Linked DNA regions of Homo sapiens: region 1 is linked to region 2. The links come from fine-mapping of genetic effects on gene expression. A gene starts in region 2. The other region holds a variant in brackets. All regions are shown on one strand. Distances are from middle to middle. Region 1 overlaps ARHGEF10 (Rho guanine nucleotide exchange factor 10). Region 2 holds the start of ARHGEF10 (Rho guanine nucleotide exchange factor 10).

Region 1 (14,287 bases), 28 kb before region 2:
AGGTTGAAAATTATGGAAAATAGTACAAAGAGAAGAAACTTAGCCAATCTTAAATTAAGTCCTTTCAGGTACATCATGAAGAAATCATAACTCTCTGGCTCCTAGAAATCATCCTTTCCCTACAATGTTCCAATTGGGCCGTAAGAATGGGGAGAAAATCGGCGAGTCCGATGGCTGAGCACAGGTGACCCTGATGCCGGTGATCTGCGGACTCACCTGGGAACCCCCCAGGGGACTCACCTGGGGACCCACCTGGGGACTCACCTGGGGACTCACCTGGGAACTCACCTGGTGACTCACATGGGGACCCACCTGGGGACTCACCTGGGGACCCACCTGGGGACTCACCTGGGGACCCTCCTGGAAACTCACCTGTGGGTGCAGGGGCTTCACTGGCTCCAGCACCTCCTGTCTCAGGGGCGGATGGGGCCTGTCTGTCCGCTTCTGGGATTTCATCTCCACTGTCAAAATCGAACTGTTCTCCCTCTTCCTCTTCATTATTATTGGTATCATATTTCATTTCATTTTCTAAAAAGAAAAACCAAAACCACATCAAGGAGAGATAGATAGATAGATAGATAGATAGATAGATAGATAGATAGATAGATCGATCGATCTATGTTAGCCAGAGACACTGACTAAGTTCCTCTGTGCTGTACTGCGCTTGTAGTTAACCTTTTTAAGGGGCAAAATAAGTATCATTAGAATTCTGAGTCACTGGTTTTTATTTTCTTTTAATAGGATCTACAACTCACAGAGAAGAAACAAGAGGCTGGGGGTGGTAGCTCACATCTGTAATCCCAGCACTTTGGGAGGCCAAGGTGGGCAGATCACAAGGTAAGAAGCTTGAGACCAGCCTGGCCAACATGGTGAAACCCCATCTCTACTAAAAATAAAAAAATTAGCCAGGCGTGTTGGCGGGCACCTGTAATCCCAGCTTCTCAGGAAGGTGGGGCAGGAGAATGGCTTGAACCCGAGAGGCGGAGGTTGCAGTGAACCGAGATTGCACCATTGCACTCCAGCCTGGGTGACAGGGCAAAACTCTGTCTCAAAAAAAAAAAAAAAGAAAAGAAAACAAGAGAAAGTAAGGGGAAAAAAGAGCTTTTCACATTTTAAATCTGTGCACCCAGCAGATGAACATCACCCGGCTGGGCTGATGGTCTGGAAGAGAATTCAGTATCATCCACTTTACTTTTAGAAATAACTTCTGACACCTTGCATCTCTCCCTAGAATTCTTCTCCTTTTATTTTCATTTTGCCTCTCTTATTTACAATTTTAATTAAATATCTCTGATGGTTAGAAAATCAGTGTCAAATATGAACACCGATATATAGCTTAAAATACAAACCTCCATAATTATTAAAGAGCATGGTTAATAACTGTTCCAAGTAAGTGCTTGATAAGAAACATTTTGCAGGAGGCGAGTCACAGGTCTCCTTGGACCGGGGTTACGGCTGATGGCGCAGCCTGCCGTGTGCATCATTTGCAGAGACGGCGTGCTAGGACTGTGTGCCACCATCAGAGCAGACAGGTGCTTCTCCTTTTTCCAGAGGAGACCCATGTGCTGGGACAACACCACCCGGCACACCCAGGAGCGAGAGGAACCCAGCCCCTGCCAGCCTTTCCCAAGGGCTGGGATTTCTTCCCAGCACACGTTCCTGAGGAAACCTCCTGCTGCCATGCCCGGCAATCCACAGAAGCAGGTGGCACCTCGGGACAGAGCCTGGGTCAGCCCAAACCAAGCCCCTCCAACACAGACAATCCCCCGTGGGCCAGGGAGATGCACCCAAGCAGGACGGCCCAGCTCGGCTGCAGGCAGCTCCGGAGGGGGCTGAGGGGGAGCCCTGCTAGGGAGCAACCCACAGACACACAACCCACTTACACTCCACGCAGTCTCCAGGCGCTCTCTGCCGAGCCTCCTGGGGAAGTCGCCTCCCGGGGAACTCTAGCGGTCTAAAAACAACCTTTAAATTTGAGGTGTTTCATTTTCCTTTGAATCTCCTAAACTAGTCATACATTCTAGGAGTGCCTTTTGAAGGAAACAGATTTTTAGGTCACCACAAATACACAGAGGGGCCCAGGCCCACGACAGCGTGAACTGGATCCAGCTACCACTGCAAGGACGGTGGGGATGAGACCCCCAGCTGACCATGACACCTGGGGACCCCACGAGCTTTCTGGAACTGCTTCCACCAACACTCACGAGTTTTACAAGTATGAGAATGACAAATACTAAAATTGAATCAAGAAAAAGGATTCAGAAATGTGTTATTTTTAAAACATACGTCTGATAGGAGTGTGTGTTGCTGTCCTTCTGGATGGTGAACTCTGCTCTGCCCAGATACCAAAGCCTCACCCACTTCCTAGAGGGTCAAAGACTTCTCTAAATTCAAAGTTTTGAATTTAAGCCTAATCAAATGAAACAATCGAAGCAGGGGGAGAGCTGGAATGGACAGAACCGCTAATTTCCAGAGTTTGAGCCTTGTTAACTATGTACTTTCAAACCAGTCCTCACTGTCTCCCAAGCGACCGTAAACAAAACCTATTTCAGAAGGGGTTTTTTTTTTTGCCATATCATTAAGTAGTCAGTTTATGGAAATGAACTGGTGAATACCTTTTAAAGTAAAAAGTTAAACAAACAAAAAAACTGTTTTCTGGAATATTTTCCAAATGCAACTGTCATTTCCACAGAATTCACGTTTGGGGAGAAAAAATCATGTTTGCCAAATAAACGTGCTGCGGAAACAATGCCGACTAAATGCCGTGACGAAAATGATCAGTGAAAATGTTTATGTATTGCTGGGCGCAGGGGCTCACACGTGTAATCCCAGCACTTTCAAAGGCCAAGGAGGACTAATTGCTTGAGCCCAGGAATTTGAGACCAGCCTGGACAACATAGTGAAACCCCGTCTCTTAAAAAAAAAAAAAGGTACAAAAATTAGCCTGGGGTGAAGGCGTGGACCTGTGGTCCCACCTACTCCGAAGGCTGAGGTGGGAGGATCACCTGAACCCAGTAAGCGGAAGTTGCAGTGAGCTGAGATTGCGCCACCGCACTGCAGCCTGGGGGACAGAGCAACACCTTGTCCCCCACCCCAAAAAAAGTTTCTGTTCTGACCACCCCAAAAAAAGTCACTGCCAGGCACATGTTCAGATTCATCCAGACGGTGACACAATCACACTAGATTTTTATATTGTCAACTCTCTTTTTTGGAAATTATAGTTTACTACCGCTGAACTCAAACAATTAGATAAAATACACCTAGACATGAGTCTATAAATATTGTTTTTTAAAAAAGCTTGACAATGTCTGGTACAAAATAGGCTCTCAAATATCTGCAAGGGGAGAAACATGAGCTGTTGGGACCGGAACCCACACTGTACCCCATACAGGAAGAAGGAATTCTCTTTAAAGTCTTCAGGAAGGAAGGCCGTGAACAGGAGCCCGTGTGTGCAGGAAACAGCCCTGAGGAGACACCGAGGCCCCTCCACTCCCTCCCCATACGCCACCTCCTGGGCTGTGACACCAGCCCCGGGAGACCGGTGGGATTACCTGGGACAGTGCATGTCCCGTGTGCCAGGTACAGGTATGACCCTGAGAAGAACCGCATGCGTTCTCGGAGCCGGCACCTCTGCTCACCGCCCAGCAAGGTGCAGTGGGAAACCTGGTTGGCGGCAATGTGTGACACGCACATCATGTGAGCGAATGAATGAGAGAATGACGAGCAGATGAGCAAGCTTCAAACTGTTTTTTGCCAAAATAACTCACTTTTTCCCCTAGTAAAA[T/CT]TTAAGTAGAATTCTACTATACAAGGGAAATCAAAGCAATCAAGAAATTCCTCCAAAAGTTTAAATCTTGTTAGTTTAGACTTGGAGGGGCTTGGAAGGGGCTTGGGGCTTGGAATTCAAGAGCTCTCTGCTGTCATTGAAAGACTGGCAGACACTGGCGGAGCTGCCCTCCATCCTCTGCAAACACTGCAGGGAAAGACTTTCAAGTTATATAGACTCTGCAGAATGATGTGTGTTACAAATTCCTCTCAGAATTCAGTTCCAGTAAGAAAAAAATAGCCTTTCTACAAGAACTCAAAGAAGTTGTGCTCAATGTAACCACCTGAGGCTGCACCCCTGCCTGCATGGGTGCCCACAGCTGTGCCCACGGCGGGCGCCCAGGACAGAGGGCGAGGCCGCCTGGAGCTGGGCTGCTCCTCTGACCCCCACCTCCAAGGGGGCCTCCATCGATGGTGAGGCTGCGCCGCCCTCTGAGGTGAGCATGGGGCCGGGCGTTCAAGGTGGTGTGTGCTGAGCATGTCCATCCCAGACACTGCCCTGGGCCCTGGGGGATCCTGGGCATCACAGACCCCACCCGAGCTCCCCAGGTCCCTTAGTGAAGTGCAATGCAGAATGCCTTTAAAAATCCCAGCATTTGGGGTCCTAAGTTTAGTTCTGACACCAGCCCTGACAGGTTCAATTGTGTCCCCTAAATCCCTGTGCTGAAATCCTCACCCCCAGTCTGCTGGTGAGCTCGTCTGCAAACAGGTGACTGCAGGTGCAATTGGTTTACAGGAGGCTGTGCTAGAGCAGGCTCGGCTAACCCAGTGTGGCAGTGTCCTCATGACAGCAGAGGCCAGCACAGGGACGAGGAGCCACCTGGCAGTGCAGCTGCAGGAACTCCCGGGAGTGCCCACAGCCGGCGGGCGCTGGAAGAGGCAAGGAAGGCTGTGACCTACATTCCCGGGGAGCACACACAGCCTGCCAGCACCCTGACCTGGGACTTCCGGCCTGCAACCCAGGAGGCTCCCCCGCAAGCTCGGCCAAGCCCTTTCCAACACAAAAGGTCCTGTGCCATCCTCAGGGCCCTGGCGGGAGCCAGGCAAGCTGGGCTGGGTCGGTTCCCACAACACTCCTGCTGCAGCCACAGAAGGAATTCCCGCTTCTCAAAACCCCAGCTTCAGAACCCAGCCATTCAGCTGAAGGAGAACACTGATGAGAAAAACTACAATTTGCAAACTAGAAAAGATGCTCAAGGGCTGCTGAAAGCATCTCAGGAGATACAACGTGTTGTAGTTTGAGACGACATGGATCTTTCAAAAAGCTGTTGGGGAATCTGCAGTGTAGCCGTCATTCGCTGGACACACCATGGCCCAGTGTTCTCCGCCCGTTGGTCCCTGTGGAGCCCAGGAGGTGGGCGGGAAGGGCCCGGCGCTCTGGGTAGGCAGCTGGCAGGGAAGCAGGGAAGGGCGGCCTGGGCAGGGCTGCACCTAGGGAGAGGCTCTGTGCCCCTCCTGCCCACTCAGGACGGCAGGTTCTGAGAGTCACCCATGAAGGCCATGACACGGAGGAGGAAACACAGACGGCAGTGCAGCCCGTGCCGACCCACAGGCATCCAGCCCAAATCTAACCACCCGCCAGTGCCCGGCCCAAATCTAACCACCCGCCAGCGCCCGGCCCAAATCTAACCTGGGGACCATTCTTCCCCTGCCCCTCTCCTCTGGCCTGCCCAGGACAGGCTGCCCTCTGGCCACAGCTGCACTTCCCAGGAAAACTGCAGGCTCTGCTGCATTCAGGGGCCAGCCCTTGTGGGTCACCGGCAGCTTGACACGACACCCCTAATGCTGACCGACAGCAGCAGCCATTTAAGCCTCAGGATTCAGACTGTTTCCGTCACAGCAGGGCCATTGGGGCTGCCTTGGTGGCACTGACTTCTTACCAACCTGACTTTTTACACTTGTGAGTATGCAGGTAATTGGCTCATCAATTAAGGCACACATTTCTAAAACAAGTTATGAAATAGAAAACTTTAAGAAACATTACGTTTCCAATCATTATGACATAATATGACCATGCCCATTTTAAGTTATGCCTATATGCAAAAAAGGGCGAGGAAGTTACCTGACAATCCAATCTTCGAAATGCTGCTGCTAGAAAAGGTGCTGCTCCCGGGTTCTCTCCAGGATGATGGAGAGGTTCTAGAGGGCCCTCAGGACAGAAACGGTGCTGCTCCCCGGTCCTCTCCAGGATGATGGAGAGGTTCTAGAGGGCCCTCAGGACAGAAACGGTGCTGCTCCCCGGTCCTCTCCAGGATGATGGAGAGGTTCTAGAGGGCCCTCAGGACAGAAACGGTGCTGCTCCCCGGTCCTCTCCAGGATGATGGAGAGGTTCTAGAGGGCCCTCAGGACAGAAACGGTGCTGCTCCCCGGTCCTCTCCAGGATGATGGAGAGGTTCTAGAGGGCCCTCAGGACAGAAACGGTGCTGCTCCCCGGTCCTCTCCAGGATGATGGAGAGGTTCTAGAGGGCCCGCAGGACAGCTCAAGTCACACATGGCTATTGCACTTGGGGTGGCCAGTGTGACCAAGAGCCTCAGTTGTTGTTGTTATTTAATTCTTATCAATTCTAAGTTTTGTAGACACCTGAGCCTAGTGGACCTCGCAGGCCTGAATCTCGAGCTATCAAGACGGCTAACGGCCTGTCTGAGCCTGAGAGCCGTCCCCACACCCACAGGGCCCCTCTGCTTGTGTCTGTCTTCATATGGTCTGCAGCAGAGATTCATTTCCATTTGGTTATTAATTTTTTTTTTTTTTGAGACAGAGTCATGCTCTGTTGCCCGCGCTGGAGTGCAGTATTGCGATCGCAGCTTACTGCAGCCTTGACCTCCTGGGCTCAAGCAATCCTCCCACCTCAGCCTCCCAAGCAGCCAGGACTACAGGCATGAGCCACCACGCCTGGCTAAGTTTTATTATTTTTAATAGAGACGAGGTGGCACTATGTTGCCCAGGCTGGTCTCAAACTCCTGAACTCAAGTGATCCTCCTGCCTCGGCCTCCCAAAGTGCTGGGATTACAGGCAAGAGCCAACGTGCCCACCCCAGTTTGGTTGCTTTTAAGAGATACAACTTTTTAGAGCAGTTTTAGGTTCACAGGAAAATTGAGAGGAAGGTACAGAGAGTTCTCATATACTCCCCACCCCCAAAGAGAGCCTCCCCCAACACTATCCCCCATCCTTTGCCAGAGTGGAACACTTGTTGCAACTGAGAAGCCAACACTGAGGTACGTCACTAACTAAAGCCCACGGTGTGTGTTAGGCCTCGCTCCTGGTGCTGTGCCTTCTGTGTGAGGAGCCAACAATGAGGTATGTCACTAACTAAAGCCCACGGTGTGCGTGAGGCCTCGCTCCTGGTGCTGTGCCTTCTGTGTGAGGAGCCAACACTGAGGTACGTCGCTAACTAAAGCCCACGGTGTGCGTGAGGCCTCGCTCCTGGTGCTGTGCCTTCTATGGGTTTGGACAGGCGTGTAATGATGTTGAGGTACGTCGCTAACTAAAGCCCACGGTGTGCGTGAGGCCTCGCTCCTGGTGCTGTGCCTTCTATGGGTTTGGACAGGCGTGTAATGACATGGATGCACCATTATCAAGGAATTTCGTGGCCCTAAAAATCCCGTGCTCCGCCTGTCACCCCTCCCCCCCGCAAACCCCTAGCAACCCTGAGCTTGTTACTGTATAATTTTGTTTTCTAGAATGTCACGTGGTTGGAATCGCACCGGGCGCAGCCTTTTCAGGTTGGCTTCTCTCGCTCAGTAAGATGCATTTAAGGCTCCTCCATGTCTTTTCACGGCTTGGCAGCTCATTTCTTCCTAGCACTGAATGTTCCACTGTCTGAATGGGCCCCAGTTTATCCATCCATTCACCTCCTGAAGGACATCATGGCTGCTTCTGGGTTCTGGCAATTATGAATAAAGCTGCTATCAACACCTATATGGGCAGGTATTGAGTGGACATTAAGTTTTCAACTCATTTAAATAAATACGCCGGGGCATGGCTGCAAGTCACACGGTAAGAGTGTGCTCAGGTTTGAAGAAGCCACCAAACTGCCCTCCCACGCGGCTGCCCCACGCCCTCTAGCCACCCGCCAGCACCCGGCCCTCCTCAGCATTTGCCGTCTGTGTCCACGCAGCTGCCCCACGCCCTCCTCAGCATTTGCCATCTGTGTCCACGCGGGTGGCCCATGCCGTCTTCCGCACTTGCCGTCCATGCCCACGCGGTTGCCCCACACCCTCCTCAGCATTTGCCGTCTGTGTCCACGCGGTTGCCCCACACCCTCCTCAGCATTTGCCGTCCATGCCCACGCGGCCGCCCCACACCCTCCTCGGCATTTGCCGTCTGTCCACACGGTTGCCCCACGCCCTCCTCAGCATTTGCCGTCCATGCCCACGCGGCCGCCCCACACCCTCCTCAGCATTTGCCGTCTGTGTCCACGCGACTGCCCCACGCCCTCCTTAGCATTTGCCATCCATGCCCATGTGGCCGCCCCACGCCCTCCTCAGCATTTGCCCTCTGTGTCCACGTGGCCGCCCCACACCCTCCTCAGCATTTGCCCTCTGTGTCCATGCAGCCGGCCCACGCCCTCCTCAGCATTTGCCCTCTGTGTCCACGCAGCCGGCCCACGCCCTCCTCAGCATTTGCCCTCTGTGTCCATGCAGCCGGCCCACGCCCTCCTCAGCATTTGCCCTCTGTGTCCATGCAGCCGGCCCACGCCCTCCTCAGCATTTGCCCTCTGTGTCCACGCAGCCGGCCCACGCCCTCCTCAGCATTTGCCCTCTGTGTCCACATGGTCGCCCCACGCCCTCCTCAGCATTTGCTGTCTGTGTCCACGTGGCCGCCCAAGCCCTCCTCAGCATTTGCCCTGTGTCCACGCAGCCGGCCCACGCCCTCCTCAGCATTTGCCCTCTATGTCCACGTGGCCGCCCCACGCCCTCCTCAGCATTTGCTGTCTGTGACCACGTGGCCACCCCATGCCCTCCTCAGCATTTGCCATCCATGCCCACGTGGCCACCCCACGCCCTCCTCAGCATTTGCCGTCTGTGTCCACACGACTGCCCCACGCCCTCCTCAGCATTTGCCGTCTGTGTCCACGCAGCTGGCCCCACGCCCTCCTCAGCATTTGCTGTCCATGCCCACGTGGCCGCCCCACGCCCTCCTCAGCATTTGCCCTGTGTCCACGTGGCTGCCCCACGCCCCCCTCAGCATTTGCTGTCTGTGTCCATGTGGCCGCCCCACGCCCTCCTCAGCATTTGCCCTCTGTGTCCACGCGGCCGGCCCACGCCCTCCTCGGCATTTGCCTTCTGTGTCCACGTGGCCGCCCCATGCCCTCCTCGGCATTTGCTGTCTGTGTCCACGTGGCTGCCCCATGCCCTCCTCGGCATTTGCTGTGTCCACACGGCCGCCCTACGCCCTTCTCAGCATTTGCCGTCTGTGTCCCCGCAGCCGCCCCACACCCTTCTCAGCATTTACCATCTGTGTTCTGGATTTTGGCTATTCTAATTTGAAGTTAGTTTTAAGTGCTCTTTTCTTAATGAGCAAAAGGGTACAAATAAAGTATCTAAGTTTAGTTTAAAATTTAGTTACCCTCTGCCCGGGGTGGGGAGCGGTGTCTAGGGGTGACCAGCACTGACTGTGTGATGGTCCTACATGCTTGTGAATACAGTAAAAGCCACGGAGCTTTACAAGTTAAATAGGTAAACGGTACTAAGATATGAATTATATCTTAATAAAGCCATAAATAAAAAAACTTAATCTCTCACTTTAAATAAACTATACATATAAAAACAAGTGCTGCCTAGGTTTGTCAGGGAAAAAAACTGCTAATGTTTGAAACATAACCATGCAGATACTATCACTTATATTAACGGCATTTAAAAGTTTGCTTCAAGGGGAAAAAAAAAGACTACTTCTAAAACACTGGAAGAATATTCAATAAAATTTTAACAGTACTAATCTCCCAGAGGTGAAGTATTTTCTTTTTCGTGACTTGTCTATATTTTAGTTTTTATTCTACAATTAACATGCATTGTAATTTTTTTAATTACCCAATTTAGATTATAAACTGTAAAGTCATTTGTAGTACCTGAAATGTAGCTTCCCTACATTTACATAGTGAATACATTTAATAGTGAATACAACATTCACTGAATAAACAACAAACAGAAACCACGACACACCCATCGCTGCGCAGCACATCTCCCATCCTGCTGTGTTATTCTGAAGCCCCCGGACAAATCTACACAAGAAATGCTAAGTACAGAGTCGTGGATTAGAGAACGGCTTCTGGAGTCGGAGAGCTGAGTTCAAACTTTGCTTGCTGGCCACGAGACCCCATCCCTCGTCTATAGAAAGGAATCACAGAATGGAAAGAATCCCTCCCTGGGGCATGTTGCAACAAGTAGGAAACGCCGTGTGGCGCGTACAAAGCCACTTAACCTGAGGACTAAGACGGAGGACCCCGCGTACCTCTTTTTACAGAGATACTGAAGAGAGGACGACAAATACAATATGCACGATGCAAAAGAAGACGCATAGAACACTTCAATTTTCTGTTTTCTTTAGCGAAATATTTATTCTACAAGCTACCAAGACCTGGTGGCTCTGGTCCCAGCACCCTGAGTGGGAGAGAACTGGCCGCCAGCCCTGGAGAAGCAGGCCACCCATTCCCGGGCCACCTTCCCTCGTGAGCAGACAGCGCTCTGACTGTTCCAAGTCCATGAAGAACTTTTAAAGACATGCAACGATTAACACACTGAGAACAAGATTAAAGTAATACTCATTTTTTAAGATCAGAGATAAAAGCTAAGTGTTACTTTTCCTGGGGCTTGGAAGAGCATGTTTGATTCTCATATGAAGGTTTAACTCGGGATATGATTTTCTCTTATTTTGAATGAAGGCTGTTTGTGTTTTAGCTCTATTGTTTAAAGAAAAGTCCTTTAAAAAGCACCAGGCTGCAAACAGCTTCAGCCACAAGAGGCTATTCATAACCACTTCTTGGCTCTGGGTGTCACTGCGGTTTGTAGCTGCTTGTGCTGAAGGAGGCCTCCCCAGAAACAGTGCCATCCCCCAGAAACAATGCTGCCCCCAGAAACAAAGCTGCCCCCAGAGACGATGCCAGTGTGAGTGCTGGCGTCTGTCTGAGCTCATTATGGAAGTTACCAGGTATTTGGTAAATGATTTTTTGTGAACCAACATTAACATGCCAATTGTACTTATTTCTTTTGCCCTAATGTAATTTGCATTGGAATTTTGCTACTAATTAGAGAAAGGCTTTAGCTGGCAGTGTGACTTGTTTTGCATTCTGAGAAATCCCAGATCATCTTCTGAATGGATTTGCTGAGTGCTTACCAGCTAGGTCTAAGTACTTCATAAATGCTAACTTGTCAAATCCTCCCCAAACTTATGAGAGGGGTTCTGTTTTTTCCAGGAATGACAGAAATTGAAGGCTGCTTAGGTCATCAGCTCACACACCTCAGGGTCAACATTTGAACCCCAGCAGCTGGGCAGCAGAGCCTGAAATCTTTCCTGGTGCACAGGCTGCCTCTCCAACACCACTTCCCCTTGTGATGACCTGACGTGTTGCCAAAGACATTTCTAGAGAAGGCACAGGGACCTGGTAAAGGTGAGGAATGGGCATGGACTAAAGAATGATTCCACTGGAACACACAACAGCACCCCTGCCAGGAGGCCCCAAGAGCAGCCACTGAGGAGGACACTTACGAAAAACGAGCAGCAGCCTGAAAATACTCACAAACACAAATGTTAACGCGGTATAAAAACCTACACTCAAAATGTTAAAAATCAGGCCACATGTGGTGGCTCACGCCTGTCATCCCATCACTTTCGGAGGCCAACGTGGGCAGATCACTTGAGGTCAGGAGTTCGAGACCAGCCTGGCCAACACGGTGAAACCCTGTCTCTACTAAAAATACAAAAATTAGCTGGGCATGGTGGCAGGTGTCTATAATCCCAGCTACTCAGGAGACTGAGGCAGGAGAATCCTTGAACCCGGGAAGTGGAGGTTGCAGTGAGCCAAGATCACACCACTTCACTCCAGCCTGGGTGAGAGAGCGAGACTCCGTCTCAAAAAAAAAAAGTTAAAAATTTATATTCAATGACTACAATTATGTAGAAAAGAAATATGGGGAAAAAAACCAGAAAAGTGATGATCTAAAGTAACAGCACCAACTGTGTCCCCACGCAGGGAAGAAATGAGGTCGCAGTAACTTCCTGCTGGATCCTGATCTTCAGGGGCACTTTTAAGTGGACGGTTGACTTAATAATGGGGGAAATTATAATTAAAGTACCACAGAATCCTCAGAAAAGACACCAGGCCATTATCCCTATTTCTATTTGTCGTAAAAGTTATTGGCTAGAAACTCACCTAAGTTTCCAAGCCAGAGCACTGTCATTAAATGGTGGCTTTCTGTATCAAAGACCAAGGTCATGTGGCCTGTCAGCAAGGGCAGGGGCCTCGCTCCCAACCCGCCAGAGGGCTGGGCGGCTCCTCAGCCCCTCCGCGGCTCCCGGGCTCCCGCCAGGGTCTCCCGAGGACACCCTCCTGGGTGAAATGTTAACAGTGGCGAACTGTGGAGAGCTCCACATTCCTGCAGCCTGGAGCTAGTGACCAGCCCTGAGGCTGGATCCAGTAGCCTTGGCCCAAGGACGGCCTGGCCAGTCCAGCTGCACCCAGAGGGCGTGGACCTGTCATACTCTCCCCTGGGTCGAAATCTGGGCAGAGGGAGGGGCTATGGAGACACCCCCAGCCCCAGCAGAGGAGTGTCCTGCTGCAGGGAACCCTGGGCACCCCCAGTCCTGCCTCCATCAGAGGCCACATCTCTGATTAGCACAACTACACACAAAGTGGAGTCCTATGGGCCCAGGAACCTTCTTCAGAAGCCAGTTCTGGTCGTGGAGACCATGGGTGGATGGGCATTTCATGCAATCCAGGTGGTGGTACCGCTGGGCAGAGCTCCTCAGGGTGCCAGGCACTAGCCAGGACTGATGACGACGTCAGCAAATGCTGGAGATAAATTTAATGAGAAAACGGTGTTTCCGCCTTCTTTGAAACAGAGGGCAAAACAGGGTGAAAGGCAGCATCCATCTGCCACGGGATTCTGAACGGGTCCTACGTCCTCCACGCTTACCTGCAGAGACAGCTTCCTGGCCTTTCTTTCATTTTTAACTTTCCCCAACAACTGTACCCGCCTCCTCAGCATGTCAAGGCACCATATTAATGGTGTGCCATCTTACATGTGTGTGGGAAGGAGGGGAGGCAACAGAAAAGCACGCAAGCTCTGGTGCTCACCCCTTCAAACAGAAAACTATCCAAGACAACCACTCATTTCCAAGAAATGCCAAAAAGAAAGCAGGGAGGCGGGAGGGGGCCCCTGGAGGGACAGCCGCCCAAAGTGGGCCCGTGGAGGGTAAGGCCACAGGATGACGCCCACTGCCCTGCTCTGCTGGGGCATCATCTCATTTGATAGGAATGAAAAGCAGTAAAAGATTTTGCTCTCTGCCTCATGTTCCACCTTTATTTTTTAGACAGGGTCTCAGTCCCACCACCCAGGCTGGAGTTCAGTGGAAGGATCTCGGCTCACTGCAGCCTCAACTTCCCGTGCTCAAGTGAACCTCCCACCCCAGCCTCATGAGTAGCTGGGACTACAGGCATGCACCATCATGCATAACTAATTATTATCATATCATTATTTTTGCAGAGATGGGGTCTAATTATTACAACTATTACAACTAATTATTATTACATTATTATTCTTTTTGCAGATATGGGGTCTCACTACGTTGCCCAGGCTGGTCTCAAACTCCTGGGCTCAAGTGATTCACTCACCTCAGTCTCCCAAAGTGCTGGCATTACAGGTGTGAGCTGAGGTGCCCGACCTCATTTTCAATTAAAACAACCTAGTCTGGCAGAGCCTGAATGCCAGCAATCCACACGTAAGTGAACTGTGGCGACAACGAGCACCATGGCGACAAAAAGGCAAGGAGACCGGCCGACGTCACCCCCAGAAGAGAAGCAGTGGAGCTGTGGCCTCGGGTTTCCGGTACCGGGTCCCGTACCCCGTGGTCTTGCGGCTCCGGAGAACTCCAGGAGCTGGACTTCCAGGCCTGGTTCCCCACCGCAGACCCCCGGCAGCAGGAGTGGGCATCCCTTCTGGCCCCTGTGGTGTCGCTGGCTGTTTCTGGGGTGGCCACTGCTCACCCCTGGATTCTCCCGTCTCTGTCGTCCAGCAGGCCCCGGTGACCCCTGGATTCTCCCGTCTCTGTCATCTACCAGGCCCCGGTGACCCCTGGATTCTCCTGTCTTTGTCATCTACCAGGCCCCGGTGACTGACTTGCTTATGAACAGCCTGACTTCCAGGCTGCCTCTTTTCTGATCCAGCTACAATCTCTGAGGGCCCAGAGTGTCCACGTAGTTGGGGGGCACAGACGACCAAATCCCAGCATCTCCCAAGACCCACACCC
Region 2 (15,396 bases):
CCACTGTCCCTCCATGGATGTCACACTGTCCCTCCATGGCCGTCACACTGTCCCTCTATGGCTGCCACTGTCCCTCCATGGATGTCACACTGTCCCTCCACAGCCGTCACACTGTCCCTCCACGGCTGCCACTGTCCCTCCACGGATGTCACACTGTCCCTCCACGGCTGCCACACACTGTCCCTCCATGGATGTCCATCACCCTGTCTGCTACAGCTCTCTGTCACATGGCCCCTCCGTGGCTCTCCCACACTGTCCCTCCATGGGTCTGGCCCGTGGCCCTTCCAGCCGCTCTGACACACAGAGCCTCCAAGGCTTCTTCCCATGCAGTTCCCCCGCTGCCCTGGCATTCACCAGTCCCCTCTTGCCTTCGGCCCTCCAGCCCTGGCCGACCTGCTGTTCCTGGACATGCTGGGTGCACCACCTCAGGGCCGCGCAGACGCTGTTCCTCCCACTGGGAATGGGCTTCTGTGGACGTGGGCTCAGCTCATCTCTCGGCTCCAGTGGCATTTCAGGCAATGACCCCATTCTCTTGGCGCCTCGCCTGCCATGGCTCCTATTCAATTTCAAATCCCTCCTCTCCGCACCTTGTAGCCCCGTGTATGCCTTATTTCTCCACCTTGTAGCCCCGTGTATGCCTTCTCTTTCCGCAGCTTTTCATCATATTACTTTACTTCTTAAATCATCTTTCCTGAAGACAAGGGTGCCAGCCCCCCAGGGCAAGCACATGGTCTCTGCGGTTCACACCCTGCCTTGGGGCGTGAGAGCACTTAGTACTTAGCACGCAGCGGTATTCATGAAACACCTGTCTCTTAATAGGTCATTTCCAGATTTGCCGGTGCTTGTCATATGGCCACAGGTAGATTTTCTTCATGTGCAAAGGTTGTTTCTTTTTATAGAAGTTAAATCAAGTATAAAAACTTGATTCAAAAAACACATAAGCACAAAAGGGCACTAAACCTAAGCCAACAGAGAAAGGCCTCAAGGGACCAAGAAGGTGCTCGCAGGTGTTTGCACGGCCCCCGGAGGCTCCTGGCAGCCTGGATGCTGGACAGAAGCCACGCCCAGGAGTCAAGCGCCCACCAAGGACAGCCGCCTGGGCCCCACGGGAAATGAGCCGCCTGAGCCCCACGGGAAATGAGCCGCCTGCCACGCATGCCTGCGGATTGCAGTGGAAATCTCCCAGGATTACAGGTGCGCGCACACAGCCTCCCTCCCCTGCCTTCGTCTGATACTCCTCTTGTCACCAGGAGTCCTTGCCCTCTGGGGCCGTCTGCAGACAGAACGGAGCGGGGAAGTGGCTCTTTAGAGCAAGCGGGAGCTGCCTCCAAACTGCAGCCCTCTGACGGCTGGCAGAGAGCACTTCGGAGCCTGCACACTGGAGAACCTAACCCTCTCCTTCTTGCTACCGCTACCTATGACTCGCTCCCCAGATATTTTCATCAGCTGGCAAAACGCTGCACCTTTCATTCCTTCCTATTAAATCATGGAGAAACCTGCATGTCTAAACGCCATTCCAGGAGCAGGGTGCCTGCCGCCGTCCCAGCAGCCTCCCCGGGCCTCGCCGCGCGTTCTTCCTCCGCAGACCCCGGATTCGGGACCACGAATGCAGCGCTGCGCCGCCGTGCAGCGCTGGGCACCTATGACGCTCGTTTAGACTCCAGCTGCAGCTGAAAAGTGACCTATTCTACATAACACAGGACCACAGCTTCCAGAGAAAGGAATTCTCCTCAGCCCTGCTCTGCAAGAAGTGCCTCTGCTGGCTGAATGCAGAGCCCACACAAACGACAGAAAGCCACGAAGCCGCGGCTTCCGTGGAGGCAGCTGGACGTGGGTCAGGGCCTCTCGTGTGGGCTGCTTCCCACGGGCCTGCTGAGTCAAGTGCTTGAGAACAAAGCATGAGTCGACTTTCTTATCACTCCTGCAGCAAGCAGGCTGGCCAGGGTCAGGGGCTGGCTCCAGCCCTCAGCGGACTTCAAGCTGGCCCGGCCCACACAGGGCAACCGCCCACAGGCCTGGCCTTACCACGTCCCACTGGTTCCATGCCGCTGACCCCGCCAGGCTCAGAACTGCACGCACCATCAGGAAGACCCACCGCATTCCCTCCGTCACAGCTCAGCGCTTCTCACACAAAACATACGGAGCTTCTGAACCAGGAGGGTCATTAACTCTGGAGCTCCCTGGGTTGTGTCTACACGGCCCACGCAGGTATCCTGTCGGGACGACTCAGCTCAGGCCCGACATGAGTGCAACTGTGCAGGCGGGGAGCGCTCGGCCTGGCCGGGCTGGTTGGCCGCCCCCCAGGTGTGCTGGAGGCCCTGCCGCCTGCTTCCTCTCCAAAGCTCGAGGACTCCCCGTCCGTGTCCGCTCAGATACGCACTGAATACCACGCTAGCTTATGTAATGCTCTTTGGACTCACTTTTCTCATGTTCCTTACAGAAAATCAGACACTGCACTGAAATCACTGCTTTATTTTCCTTTCAGAAAAAAAAAATAAGCAAACGATAGAATAAAACAGTAAGTGCGCATGCCACAGTTTATCAAAATGTAATTCCTTAAAACCGTAAGTGTGCATGCCACGGTTTATCAAAATGTAATTCCTTAAAACAGTAAGTGTGCATGCCACGGTTTATCAAAATGTAATTCCTTAAAACCGTTAAGTGTGCACGCCACGGTTTATCAAAATGTAATTCCTTAAAACAGTAAGTGTGCATGCCACGGTTTATCAAAATGTAATTCCTTAAAACCGTTAAGTGTGCATGCCACGGTTTATCAAAATGTAATTCCTTAAAACAGGAAGTGTGCATGCCACAGTTTATCAAAATGTAATTCCTTAAAACAGTAAGTGTGCATGCCACGGTTTATCAAAATGTAATTCCTTAAAACCGTAAGTGTGCATGCCACGGTTTATCAAAATGTAATTCCTTAAAACAGTAAGTGTGCATGCCACGGTTTATCAAAATGTAATTCCTTAAAACAGTAAGTGTGCATGCCACGGTTTATCAAAATGTAATTCCTTAAAACCGTTAAGTGTGCATGCCACGGTTTTAAGGGAGGAAGGCACTTTAAGAGGAAGGCACTGCTCTTCCACAACATAATAACGACCACATCCAAGTGTAAGGGTCTGTTCCCCACAGCTGGACAACAAGCCACGGGCACAAAACAAAACAAAGAACGTGATCTCAGCACGGAAGCAACACCTACGACTTGCAGGAGCCTGACTCACCCCGACTCACCTGGTGCCGAAAAGGGCCTCGGCTGTCTGTAGCTATCAGTGGAGGCAGAGTGTTGAGGTACCACAACCATTCCTTCTGTTTTCTTCATTAAACCCCCACTGTGAGTCCCCAGGGACTGACGGTCATTAAGATATTGGAACCTAGAATGGCCAGATTGGTAACTAGCCAATGCTGATGCAGCCAGGCCTATTCTACGCAGACAGCCATGCATCTCTACATGTGCCTGTTAACAACCTGCATGCTTCCCCATCGCTCCCTCACAAGGGCCCCCGCACCAGTCACAGCTCTGGATACCATATTTTACTTTACACAGTTATTTCCCCTATCAGAAGTGACCCATGGAAGAGAAAAACTTTGAACCCAAACATTTTTAAAAATATTTTACACCTTTTTCACATCATTTAACAAAAATATAAAATACCAACAACCCCCATATAGCACTTTCTACTGGCAGGCCTGCTTTACTCTAATGATACAACAAAAAGCAGGAAATGGCAATGATGGAAGGAAAGGAAAAATCCACGATTTAAAATGATCATTTTGACGGGGCATGCAGTGGCTCACGCCTGTAATCCCAGCGCTTTGGGAGGCTGAGGCAGGTGGATCACTTGAGGTCGGGAGTTCAAGACCAGCCTGGCCAACATGGCAAAACCCGTCTACTAAAAATACAAAAATTAGCCGGGCACGGTGGTGGGTGCTTATAATCCCAGCTACTTGGGAGGCAGAGGCAGGAGAATTGCTTGAACCTGGGAAGCAAAGACTGCAGCAAGCCGAATCTCTCCACTGCACTCCAGCCTGGGCAACAGAGTGATACTCCATTTCAAAAAAAAAGATCACTTTTTTATCAAAATTTGGAAAACTACTCACAGAAAACAAACAAACAGAACCAAAACCAATGTCCAAACCTGACAACTATGAACAGGCTGAAGCAGAGTAGGGTGGCAGATGTGGCAGAAGTGTGTGTGTATCAGCGTGGGGGCTGGTGGCAGGGCATTCTCCCTGGGCCCCTTTGCCACACCTGTCCTTACAGGTAACCCTGCCCCTCCCTAGACGGACCTGGGGCTGTGGCCCTGTCTGCCACCCAGGCAAGGACCCCTGCTGGTCACCGGCCTCTGCTCTCCCTGCCTCTCAGACCCTTGGCAGCCCCTGGGCCTGGCCCACCCCTTTCCACTGCAGAGCTCCCAGAACCTTCCAAAATTACACTCCCAGAAAGCCTGGTTAAGGGAGAGAGCTGAAGTTCTCCCTCATGAATGACTAACAGCTACGCTTCCCTTCTGTCTTATTTCACGCCACTTACCTTTCTACCCAGGCAAACTATAAGCAACGCACGCATGAAACACAGATTCTCTGAGCATCTCCAGATCCGAGCTGTTCTTTGCATGCTTCCTGCCACACACTGTGCAGTAAACAATGACGGGCCTACAACAGCGCTTTCTTACATCTCACTATGACGTTTTCACATCGCTTACAGAATACAACCGTCATTAGCGCATTTCCAGTTTGCTCTAATTTATGCCAAACATCTTTGTTTTAAGCAGCACTTCCCCATACAACGCCTTCTAGCAACTTCGTAAGTGAGCACCCTCAAGTCCCGTGAGAAGTCTGGACTCACAGGGCCAGGGAAAAGCTTCCCCACCTCAACCCAGGTCTGTAACTCCACACCCTCCACACCACCCAACGCCTCTATCTACAACTCACACACGCGCACACACACACACACAAAGCGCACACACACACAGCACACACACAAACACACGCACACACAAACGCACACACATGCATACAAACACAAACACATACACAAAGACACACGCACACGTATGCACACACAAACTGCAGAGGAAAGGCAGCACACCAAAGCACCCAGAAGACAAATGTGGTTACATCTGGAAGTCAAGCATCAACTTTTAAAAACATAAAAAGCTATTCTGAATAACTTTTAACTTCACTTCACCCCCAACTGTCTACAACTAATGAATTACAAATAGCACCTTATACAAATGACTTTTCTTACTGCTGAGAAATCCTGGAGGTCTCATCTGTCTATAAAGAGTTATGCATCCGTAACTGCCGATGTTGGCTGCTAAAGCCAGCAAATAAATGCTGTGAGAGACAGACAGGGACAAAGTGTGTTTTTAAAAATACATGACGTGTAAACCTCAGTAATCATCTCTCTTTTCGAATAAAAATTATTTTCTATAAAGCAGGTGTTCAAAACATATTATTAATCAGCAACAGTGAAATTGTTCCTCCTTGCAGCATTCCACCCATATGGACATTAAGTCACTCCTGCACAGAATCTAGAATACTGACCAGTCCGTACTCAGGTTATGGTTAACCAGAGAAAAGAATTAAAACCCGTTACATCTTGAGTCAATGAGAATTTTTACTTGCAGCCAAAGTTAGTGACTGGAATCAATATCAGACAACAGCAAGTTCGTCTACTGCTGCCTGGGAACATGACCTACTGGCCACAGTCGGGAGGGGTACTCAGACCTCACCTTCAGTGCCCAGGGGCCCATGGAAGGGGAGTGGGGCTGGGACAGGTGGGCAGGGCGTCTGTGGACCTAGGGCAGTTTCCTCAGAATCTACCTTGGCTTCTTGGGCACCAGCGGGCTGTGGGGTGCAGGGGAACAGGTGGAGTACGGGGGGGACAGCTGGGGTGCGAGGGACAGCTGGGGTGCAGGGTAAACAGGTGAGGTGTAGGGGGACAGGTGAGGTGCAGAGGACAGGTGGGGATCAGGGGGACAGGTGGGGTGCAGGACAGTTGAGGTGCAGGGGACAGGTGGGGTTCAGGGAGAGAGGTGGGGTGCGAGGACAGGTGGGGTGCGGGGGAACAGGTGGGGTACGGGGAGACAGGTGGGGTGCGGGGGGACAGGTGGGGTGCAGGTGAACAGGTGGGGTGCGGGGGACAGGTGGGGTGCGGGGGGACAGGTGGGGTGCGGGGGGACAGGTGGGGTGCGGGGGGACAGGTGGAGTGCGGGGGGACAGGTGGGGTGCGGGGGGACAGGTGGGGTGCGGGGGGACAGGTGAGGTGCAGGGGGGACAGGTGGGGTGCGGGGGGACAGGTGGAGTGCGGGGGGACAGGTGGAGTGCGGGTGAACAGGTGGGGTGTGGGGGGACAGCTGGGGTGCAGAGTAAACAGGTGGGGTGTGGGGAGGACAGGTGGGGTGCGAGGGGACAGGTGGGGTGCGGGGAACTGGTGGAGTGCAGAGTTAACATGGGGTGCTGAGGGACAGGCGGGGTACACGGGGTGCGGGGAACTGGTGGGGTGTGGGGGGACAGCTGGGGTGCAGAGTAAACAGGTGGGGTGTGGGGAAGACAGGTGGGGTGCAGGGGGAACAGGTGGGGTGCGAGGGGACAGGTGGGGTGCAGAATAAACAGGTAGGGTGCGGGGGGACAGGCGGGGTGCGGGGGAATAGGTGGGGTGTGGGGGGGACAGCTGCGGCGCGGGGGACAGCTGGGGTGCAGGGTAAACAGGTGGGGTGCGGGGGGACAGCTGGGGTGCGGGGAACTGGTGGAGTGCAGAGTGAACAGGGGGTGCTGAGGGACAGGCGGGGTACACGGGGTGCGGGGAACTGGTGGGGTAGGGGGACAGGTAGGGTGCGGGGGAAAGACGCCGGCTTTCCTTACACCGGTCCTTCTCTGCATCCTGAGGCGGACCGCATTCTTCTCCTTTACCGGAAAATCTAAGTTACTGCACGACCCCCCAGGCGAAGCCAGCTCGCCCCTCGGGCTCCTTCCGCCGATCGGAGTTCGCTCCTGCCCCTGGGGCCAGGGGTCCCTGCTGCCAGTCCCTGCTCCCCCCGCCCAGGCCCGCGCCGTTATCCTGAGGGGCCGGGGGCGCCGCGGAAGGGGGAGCTGCTCGGGGGGAGGGGGTCTCAGCCCCTTCCCTGAAACATCTGCGCAGGGGGTCGGGGGCGCAGCCACCTCCGGGTGGGACCCAGCGATTTCGGGGGAGCCGGGCAGAAGTGCAACTCTCAAAGGAAACCAGAAGCCCGCGAGGGGACCCACGGTCCGCGGGGCCCGCACTCACCTCGGCGGCCAGGACGCGACCCGCAGTCCCCTGCTGTTCCCCGCCGTCCCCCGCTGTTCCCCGCCGTCCCCCGCTGTTCCCCGCCGTCCCCCGCCGTTCCCCGCCGTCCCCCGCGTCCCCCGCGTCCCCCGCGACCCCGTCCGTCCCGGATCGCGCGCCCGCCGGCTACAGGGATGCGCCCAGCCCCTCCCGCCCGGACGGCCTGCTCCACCCACCATGCTGTCATTGGCGGGCCCAGACCGTTCCGGGCGCCCATTGGCCGCAGAGCCTGCCGGTTTCTCGGCAGCGCCCTGCCCTCGCGCCCGCGCATTCCTTCGAGGCCACGTGGCCGCCCGCGCCCCCTCCCGCTGCCCAACGCCCGGCCCAGGCTGCGCACGCGTGGGAGGGGGCGCGCGGCAGAGGCTCCCGCCCCCGGATCATCTCCTGCCCCGCGGACCCCGGGCCGCGCTCACTTCGGGAGGGGTCGCTGGGCAGACCGAGTGCCCTCCCCGCCCCCAACATCTGGATCCTCCCCGCAGAGCCTGCTCCCGGCTCAGAGCTGCGCCCCTTGGGGAGGGTGCGCCGGGCAGACCCTAACCCTCTCCCAGAGCACCGCCCTTTCTGCGGACCCCCACGGGCTGAGCTCACCTGAGGGAGGGGGCGTCGGGCAGACGCTCCCCCCCCCAGAACATCGCCCCTCCCTGCGGACACCCGGGGTGCGCCCAGCCGAGGAGGGGGCGTCGGGACCCCACCCGACCCGCCCTTGAGCCCCCGTCCCTCCGTCCGCAGCTGGCCCTGCCCACAGGGCGTTCCGGGTCTTCCGCGCCAGCTGCCCTGGACCAGCCAAGGCTTGGGCGTTTGGAAATGCGATGACTTCAGCCACGTTTCCGAGGCAGTTTTTGAAGCTTGCTTCTTGCCAGGAAGCGCTCGTTTTTCCCGGGACCTTTCCAGGGAATGGCCCCTTCTGAGTTATTGGAATTGTTTACTTTGAGCATTTATTTGTCTTATACTTTTAAAAAGGAAACAGATTATCGTTATAATTACTATTAAAGAAAAAAAAAAACGAGAAACAAAGACATTTTTAACCAAAATAACTAAAGGATGTTATCTTTTACCTGGTCAGCACATTTAACAAGTGTGTTCGCAGATGCTAGATTTATTTCTATGCCTTCTCCTACCCAAATCTCCGAATCATAGAAGTAATTTTAAGTCAGTGTTTTAGAACTGTCAGACTTCTTAGAGATTTCTAGCCCCTTTCACTTGTTTTATAGAAGAAATACAAACAGCTATTTGGGATGCTAAGTATCACGAAATTAATCTAAACATTAACTGCCCTTAAGGCTTGTGTGCTCTGGAATAAGTTATTTCCCTGAAAATTTTGGACTATGTAAAAATCATAGCCAACATAGAAAGACTACAATGGCTGGAAAAAATAATCGTAGGTAAGGTGATATTTTTTCAATGTTTATTATTCACACTTGCTAATTTTATGAAATCAGACTGAGTTGTTTTTATGAATCAATTGAAAAAGGTATTTGCTCTCAGCGACCTTAAGATTAGAAAACTTATTTCAGGTTTCTATTCCTAGGGTTCTCTGGGTACCTTATTCAGAGATCTTCTGCACAGATCAATGGTCAGATCAATGGTCTTGATCAACAGAAGTAAGAAGGTCAACTAAATTAGTTCTTGTTTACCTAAATACGATGAGAAAATCCTGATACTTGTAGTGTTTTCTAAAAAGGTAGAGATAAGAGGAAATAGTCCTGTGTATGGAATAAACAACTCATTTTCTCAATGGATGAAATTGAGCCCCTAAACTCAGGGCCGCCAGGGACACCACTGAGTAGGGCCACAGAGCAATGCCTTCCAGGCAGGTTGGGCAGAAAATCCCCTGATTTGGAGCTCCAATAGATCCTGTCTGTCTGCTTTATTCAGGCGTTCCTCACAGATACATCCCTATTTTCGTAAGCCCGGATATGGAAGAGTTGGGATTTTCCATTGTGATTCCCTCTTTGACCCATGGGATATTTAGAAAAGTTAGGTTCACCTTTCAAATATATGGGGACTTTCTGGTTTTCTTTTTATTGTAACTAAAGTTTAATTCCACCGGGCCTTAAAACATCAGCTGTTTTATTTTTGTCGTTTAAGATTTTCAAACACTTGCTTCATGGCCCAACATTGTCTATTTTGGTAAATGTTCTATGAGCACTTGCTGAGAACATGCTTTCACTGACATAAAGTTCTACAGATGTCAATTAGGTCATATTTGTTACTGATTTTTTTATCTACTTGTACTTTTTATCTACTTGTACTTTTTATCTACTTGTACTGATAAGGGTGTATGAAAATCTTTGACTCTCCGTAGTCTATTCAGCATTGTCCTGCAGCATCTAACAAGTGTTGTAGGTCATAAAAACAAAAAGTGTAAGGATTGAGGGAGGAAAAACTGATTATTTACAGTCAATATGATTATATATGTTAAAAAACAAAATTATCTACAAATAAACTATTAGGATTAAAATAGAATTTAGGAATTTCAGATGGATCATAGACTTAAGTGTAAAAATTATAAAGTTGCTAGGATAAAATATAAGAAAAGATCTTACGGATCTTCAGGTAAGACAGAAAATGGACCGACCATTTAAAAATGATTAAATGGCTTATCAAAATTTAATATTTCTACTCATCTCATGACATCATTAAGAAAATGAAAAGGCAAGCCACAGACTGGGAGAACACAGGGGCAATGCATATATCCCACAAATGGCTTGTCTTAATCCACGTTGTGCTGCTGTAACAGAATACCTGGGAATGGGTGATTTACAATGAAAAGAAATTTATTTCTCACAGTTCTGGAGGCTGGGAAGTTCAAGATCAAGGAGCCACATCTGGCAAGAACCTTCGGGCTGCATCATCCCATGACGGAAGGTGGGAGGCGGAGGTGGGGAGGGAGGATGCAAAATGGGCCAAACTTATCTTTTTTTTTTTTTTTTTTGAGACGGAGTCTTGCTCTGTCATCAGGCTGGAGTGCAGTGGTGCGATCTCTGCTCACTGCAACCTCCGACTCCCTGGTTCAAGCTATTCTGCCTCAGCCTCCCGAGTAGCTGGGATTACAGGTATGTGCCACCACACCCAGCTAATTTTTGTATTTTTAGTAGAGACGAGGTTTCACCCAAACTCATTCTTTTATAAGGAGCCCACCGCCTCAGTCATGGCATTTATCCATCCATGAGGGTCATACCCCCATGACCCAGACACCACCTAGTAGGCACCTTCCAACACTGCTGCATTGGGGGTCAAGTTTCCAACACATAAACTTTGGGGAAAACGCGTTCAAACCATAGTCCTGGTAAATAGAGAACTCCTGCAAATGAACAATAACAAGACAAGTCTATTTCAAAAGGGACAAAACAATATAACAATAACAAGCCTGTAAATAACAATAACAAGTCTATTTAAAAATAAACAAAAGACGTAAATACTTCACCAAAGATGTACTGATAGCCAACAAGAACAGGAAATAGTGCTCAGTGTTACCCAAAGTAAACTCACAATGAGATGCCACCACCGTCATCCAAGCACGGCTGAAACTGCAGACCGACATGGCAAGGGTAAAAATGTGGAGCCCCTGGAACCACTATACAAGGCGATGAGAGTGCAAATGGCGCAACCACTCTGATTAATTGTTTGCCCATTTCTCAGCAATCCCACTTTTAGGTTTGCCCAAGGCAAGTGAAAACATAAGTCCCTTAAAAGACTTTTACAGCCAGACATGGTGACTCCCACCTGTAACCCCAGCACTTTAGGAGGCCAAGGTGGAGGATTGCTTGAGCCCAGGAGTCTAGCATGATAGTCTCCACCTCCAGTCCCAGCTACTTAGGAAGCTGAAGTGGGAGGATCGCTTGAGGCTGGGAGGTCAAGGCTGTAATGAGTCATGTTCACCACCACTGCACTCTAGCCTGGGTGGACAGAGCAAGACCCTGTCTCAAAAAAAAAAAATGATTTTTACAAGAATTCTTTCTTCAAAACAGTTCAAATACTTCGCAACTGGAAACAACCCAAATTCCATCAACAGGTGAACTCATAAAGTATTGTATCTTCATAGAATAATAGAATACTAATAATACAGTAATAAAAAGGAAGAAACTGATATGTTCAATAACAATGAATCTTGAAAACATGAAAAACATAGACAAAAGGGCACATATAGTATGATTCAATTTTTATGAAATTCAAGAATGTGCCAAACCAACCTATAATAATAGGAATCAGAACAGTGGTTATTTTTGGGGGTATTGTCTCAGAAAAGACAAAGGAATTCTGGGGAGTGATGAAAACGGTGACTACATCTTGATTTGATTTGCAGACACATGGGTGTGTTCACTTTGTAAATAGAATCAAGCCGAACACAAGAGTAAGCTACTTCATGGGATATATACAGTGGCCTCAATGCATCCCCCTTGATGACTGAAAGTTCATCACCAACGTGATAGCAGTAAGAGGTGGGGCCTTGAGGAGGTTAGTGGGTCATGAGGGATGGGCTTAGTGCCCTTGTAGAAGTGCCAGGGGGCTGTTCACCCCTCCTACCAGTGAGGGCACAGTGCTCAAGGTGCTGTCTTGTGAGCAGAGACCAGGCTCTCCCCAGACACTGAACCTGTTGGCACGTTGATCTTGGACTTCCCCACGTCCAGAACTGTGAGAAATAAACTCCTGTTGTCTATAAATGACCCAGTCTCTGGTGTTTTGTTACAGTAGCAGGAACAAATTAAGTTATGTATCAGCAAAAAGGGGTTTTAAAAGCTGGGTTCCTTTAAAAAAATAATGATTCCCTTTATTGACGGAATACAAAATATCCCTTAATTAATTGCAAGCAAATTAAGTGCAAGGCCCATGCAGAGGGTAGGGATAATCTATACCCTAGTTAGGACATTCAGAAAGGAAAAAAATGGCAAAGACAGCCTGCCTGGTTCTAGGCCTCGCCTCTACTCCAGAGACGTCTCCATGCCCCACGCGGAGCGGGTGCGTGAGGTCAGCTCTAGCAGGGCCTAAAGGCCTGGGCTCTATCATCAAATAGGCCCGGGGGCTTCTGCCTCTTTTACCACTATATGGATGAACATGGGCGTCATTCAATGTCCTGGGCCTCAGTCTCCTCACTGAAAACAAGAGCAAAACCTACTTAGGCAGCATGAAGACTCAACACTTTCATGTGCAGAGACCGGTGTCAGGGCACCTGACCCCATGGACATCTCGGGGGAGCCTGAGGCACTGTCCGAAGATGGAAGCTTGTATCCACTCCTGGGCACAGTTCCTGGGTTCACATCCCAGGCACTTCCCTTACCAGCTGTGCTATCTGCATTGCTGTGCCTCAGTTTCCTGCAAAGAATTGGAAAGACATTCGCACCTACTGTGCGGGTCAGTTTTATATGTCACCTTGACCAGGTGACAGTCCCCGGTAATTCATTCAACATGGGTCCAGATGTGGCTGTGGAGGTGTTCTGTTGGTGTGCAAAAGACCCATCACAGTGGACTTTAAATGAGGAAGACTATGTTAGACAATCCGGGTGGGCCCGATTCAGCACTGGAAAGGCTTTCCAGAGAAGAAATTCCGCTGTGGGCGGTAGCTTCAGCTCTGCCCCAGGTCCAGCCTGCCCTTCCCACGGCCTGCCTGCCTGGACCTCGCTCCCAGGCCCCCATCGTGGTGCCGGATCCAGGCTCTAAATCTCTCCAGGTCTGCCTCCTACTGGCTGAACCTTGGCTGAGGCCACTTGTAGGATGGCGCCATTGAAAGGGAGATGGCATGCACACATCTCAGAACTACTCCACTCCGCAGGCGGGGAGCGAGACACTGAGCCCGGGGACGGCGAACAACCCTGGATGTGAGACCTCAGACAAGTCCCTGACCGTACTGAGCCTGCTATCTCGTGGATACAGGGTTAGTCACCAGTCCCTGGCTCTGGAGCGGCGGTGAAGATGAAGGCATCCTGGGTGCACCTGGCGCTCTGCCTGGCCCACAGCGCACGTGGGGCAGACCTCAGGCCGCAGTCACGGGGCTGCTCAGGTGCTGCGATGGGAGAAGAGCCAGGAAGTGAGTCTCCACCCAGTGCCGCTCAGTCACGGGACCCAGGTACAGCCTGGCAGAGGACAGACGGCGCTCCAGGGAGACCCTGGGGCAGCGTGGGGCTGGGGTGGGGCTGTCACACGGCAGAGGCCCTGGGCAAGTGCGGAGGCCACACGAACATGGGGTGCAGGGGGTACATGGAAATCAGAGGCCCCCTTCAGGCCTCTCAGCCTCCCAGCCTCGAGCCATGAGTTCTGTCTGGGCTCACGCAACCCCAGACGTGGCTGAAGAGGCTGGAGTGTCGACGAGCGCTGGGAAGAAGCTGCCGACCTCACTGCTCCGCGCCCTGCCTTCCCCTCCCTCCTGCCGTCCCCAGTCACCCCGAGGCATCACCCGGCCGGGCTCCCTGGGGCAACACATCCGAGAGCCCCCAGCAGGCCACACCCCTCCCAGCGCCTGTCCCCACAGGGGGCTCGGGACTTACAGGGAACAGTACAGCCTGGGGGCCATCGCAGATGCCCTCCAGGAAAGCAGGATGCTCTGCAGATAGGACGGCTGTGGCCGCTGCCCCAGGAAACAGCCCAGGACGCTGCCTGAGCTCAGAGGGTTCCGGACACAGACCGCGCTCCCCGCTTTGCAAACCACACCCAGTCCATTTCCTAGTGTGAGTTTGTCTCTACTCATCGGTTTGTGTCTTTATAAGAGTTCTAAAGTAAAACAAAAACACACAAGGACAGTGACCTAGACAGCACCCAGGGATGGGTCGGGTCGGCCTCCGAAGGGCAGCAGCTGCCATGCGGGAGGCAGGTTCCCGAGGAGCCGGGCAGGCTTCGGAGAGGCCGTGCTCGCTTTCCCGACTGTGGCGACGGATCCACCTGCTATGCGTTCCTCAGAACTCACTGAACCGCCCACGTTAATGACGCGCAGTTCGCCGTGTGCCAATGACGCCTCAATCAAGCTGCTAAACGAAGGCCGGAGCAGCCCTGCCTGTGGGGCTGTAATGTTTTCTGCAGCCTTGATGAGCCGCCCTGGGCTGTTTCAAAGGGAACGCAGCAGTCTCCTCTTGACTTCCGCAGTGGCCGTATTCCTGGGCCGTGCGGTGGGTGTGTCTGCAGGTAAACAGGGAGTATCTAGGCTCGGATGGTTACAGACGGCTTTCCCCGTGGGCGGCGTCCCGTGGGCCCTATGCAAGCTGCGCAGGCCGCCCTGGGCTCTGCCGCGAGTGCGTGGGCGGCAGGACGGTGCATCCCGGGCCTCCACCGGTCAAATGCTCCACACTGACCACCGCAGCACCCCCCCGCTCTCCCGGGCAAATTCTAAAGCTTCCCTAGCGGGGAGTTCCTGCTGGGGAACTTTCTCCATCCGCCCTCTTGGACCTCACAGGCTTCTTCCGCCTTCCCAAACGGACGCTGCACCCCGTCTCGTTAGAACGCTGCACCCCATCTCGTTAGAACGCTGCACCCCGTCTCGTTAGAACGCTGCACCCCGTCTCGTTAGAACGCTGCACCCCGTCTCGTTAGAACGCTGCACCCCATCTCGTTAGAACGCTGCACCCGTCTCGTTAGAACGCTGCACCCCGTCTCGTTAGAACGCTGCACCCCATTTCGTTAGAAAGCTGCACCCCGTCTCGTTAGAACGCTGCACCCCATCTGGTTAGAACGCTGCACCCCATCTCGTTAGAACGCTGCACCCCATCTGGTTAGAACGCTGCACCCCATCTCGTTAGAACGCTGCACCCCATCTCGTTAGAACGCTGCACCCCATCTGGTTAGAACGCTGCACCCCATCTCGTTAGAACGCTGCACCCCATCTGGTTAGAACGCTGCACCCCGTCTCGTTAGAACGCTGCACCCCGTCTCGTTAGAACGCTGCACCCCGTCTGGTTAGAACGCTGCACCCCATCTCGTTAGAACGCCGCCATGGCCTGCATGTGTGTCCGCTCCAAATCTCATGTTGAAATTGTATCCCGTGTTGGAGGTGCCTCCTGGTTGGAAGTGTCTGCGTTATGGGGGTGGGTCCCTCGTGAATAGATTAATGGAGGGGCTGTGAGTGACTTCTTGCTGTATTAGTTCTGTGAAAGCTGGAT

The links.
Region 1: its variant is fine-mapped to the expression of ARHGEF10 in whole blood (TOPMed, PIP above 0.99).

Annotation. Positions count from the first base shown.
Region 1 is chr8:1,844,201-1,858,487 of GRCh38, reverse strand. It overlaps ARHGEF10 (Rho guanine nucleotide exchange factor 10), which reads right to left. Exons shown (of 29, transcript NM_014629.4): 3 at 373-528. Among named protein-coding and RNA genes, the nearest start is that of ARHGEF10, 27 kb to the right of the region's middle. RefSeq lists an enhancer at 13,730-14,287. The variant T/CT (reference allele first, on the strand shown) is at 3,785.
Region 2 is chr8:1,815,991-1,831,386 of GRCh38, reverse strand. ARHGEF10 (Rho guanine nucleotide exchange factor 10) reads right to left here and starts at 7,461. Exons shown (of 29, transcript NM_014629.4): 1 at 7,274-7,461. MIR596 (microRNA 596) reads right to left here and starts at 14,156; the gene lies at 14,080-14,156. RefSeq lists enhancers at 761-1,676, 1,677-2,593, 14,189-14,856, 14,857-15,396.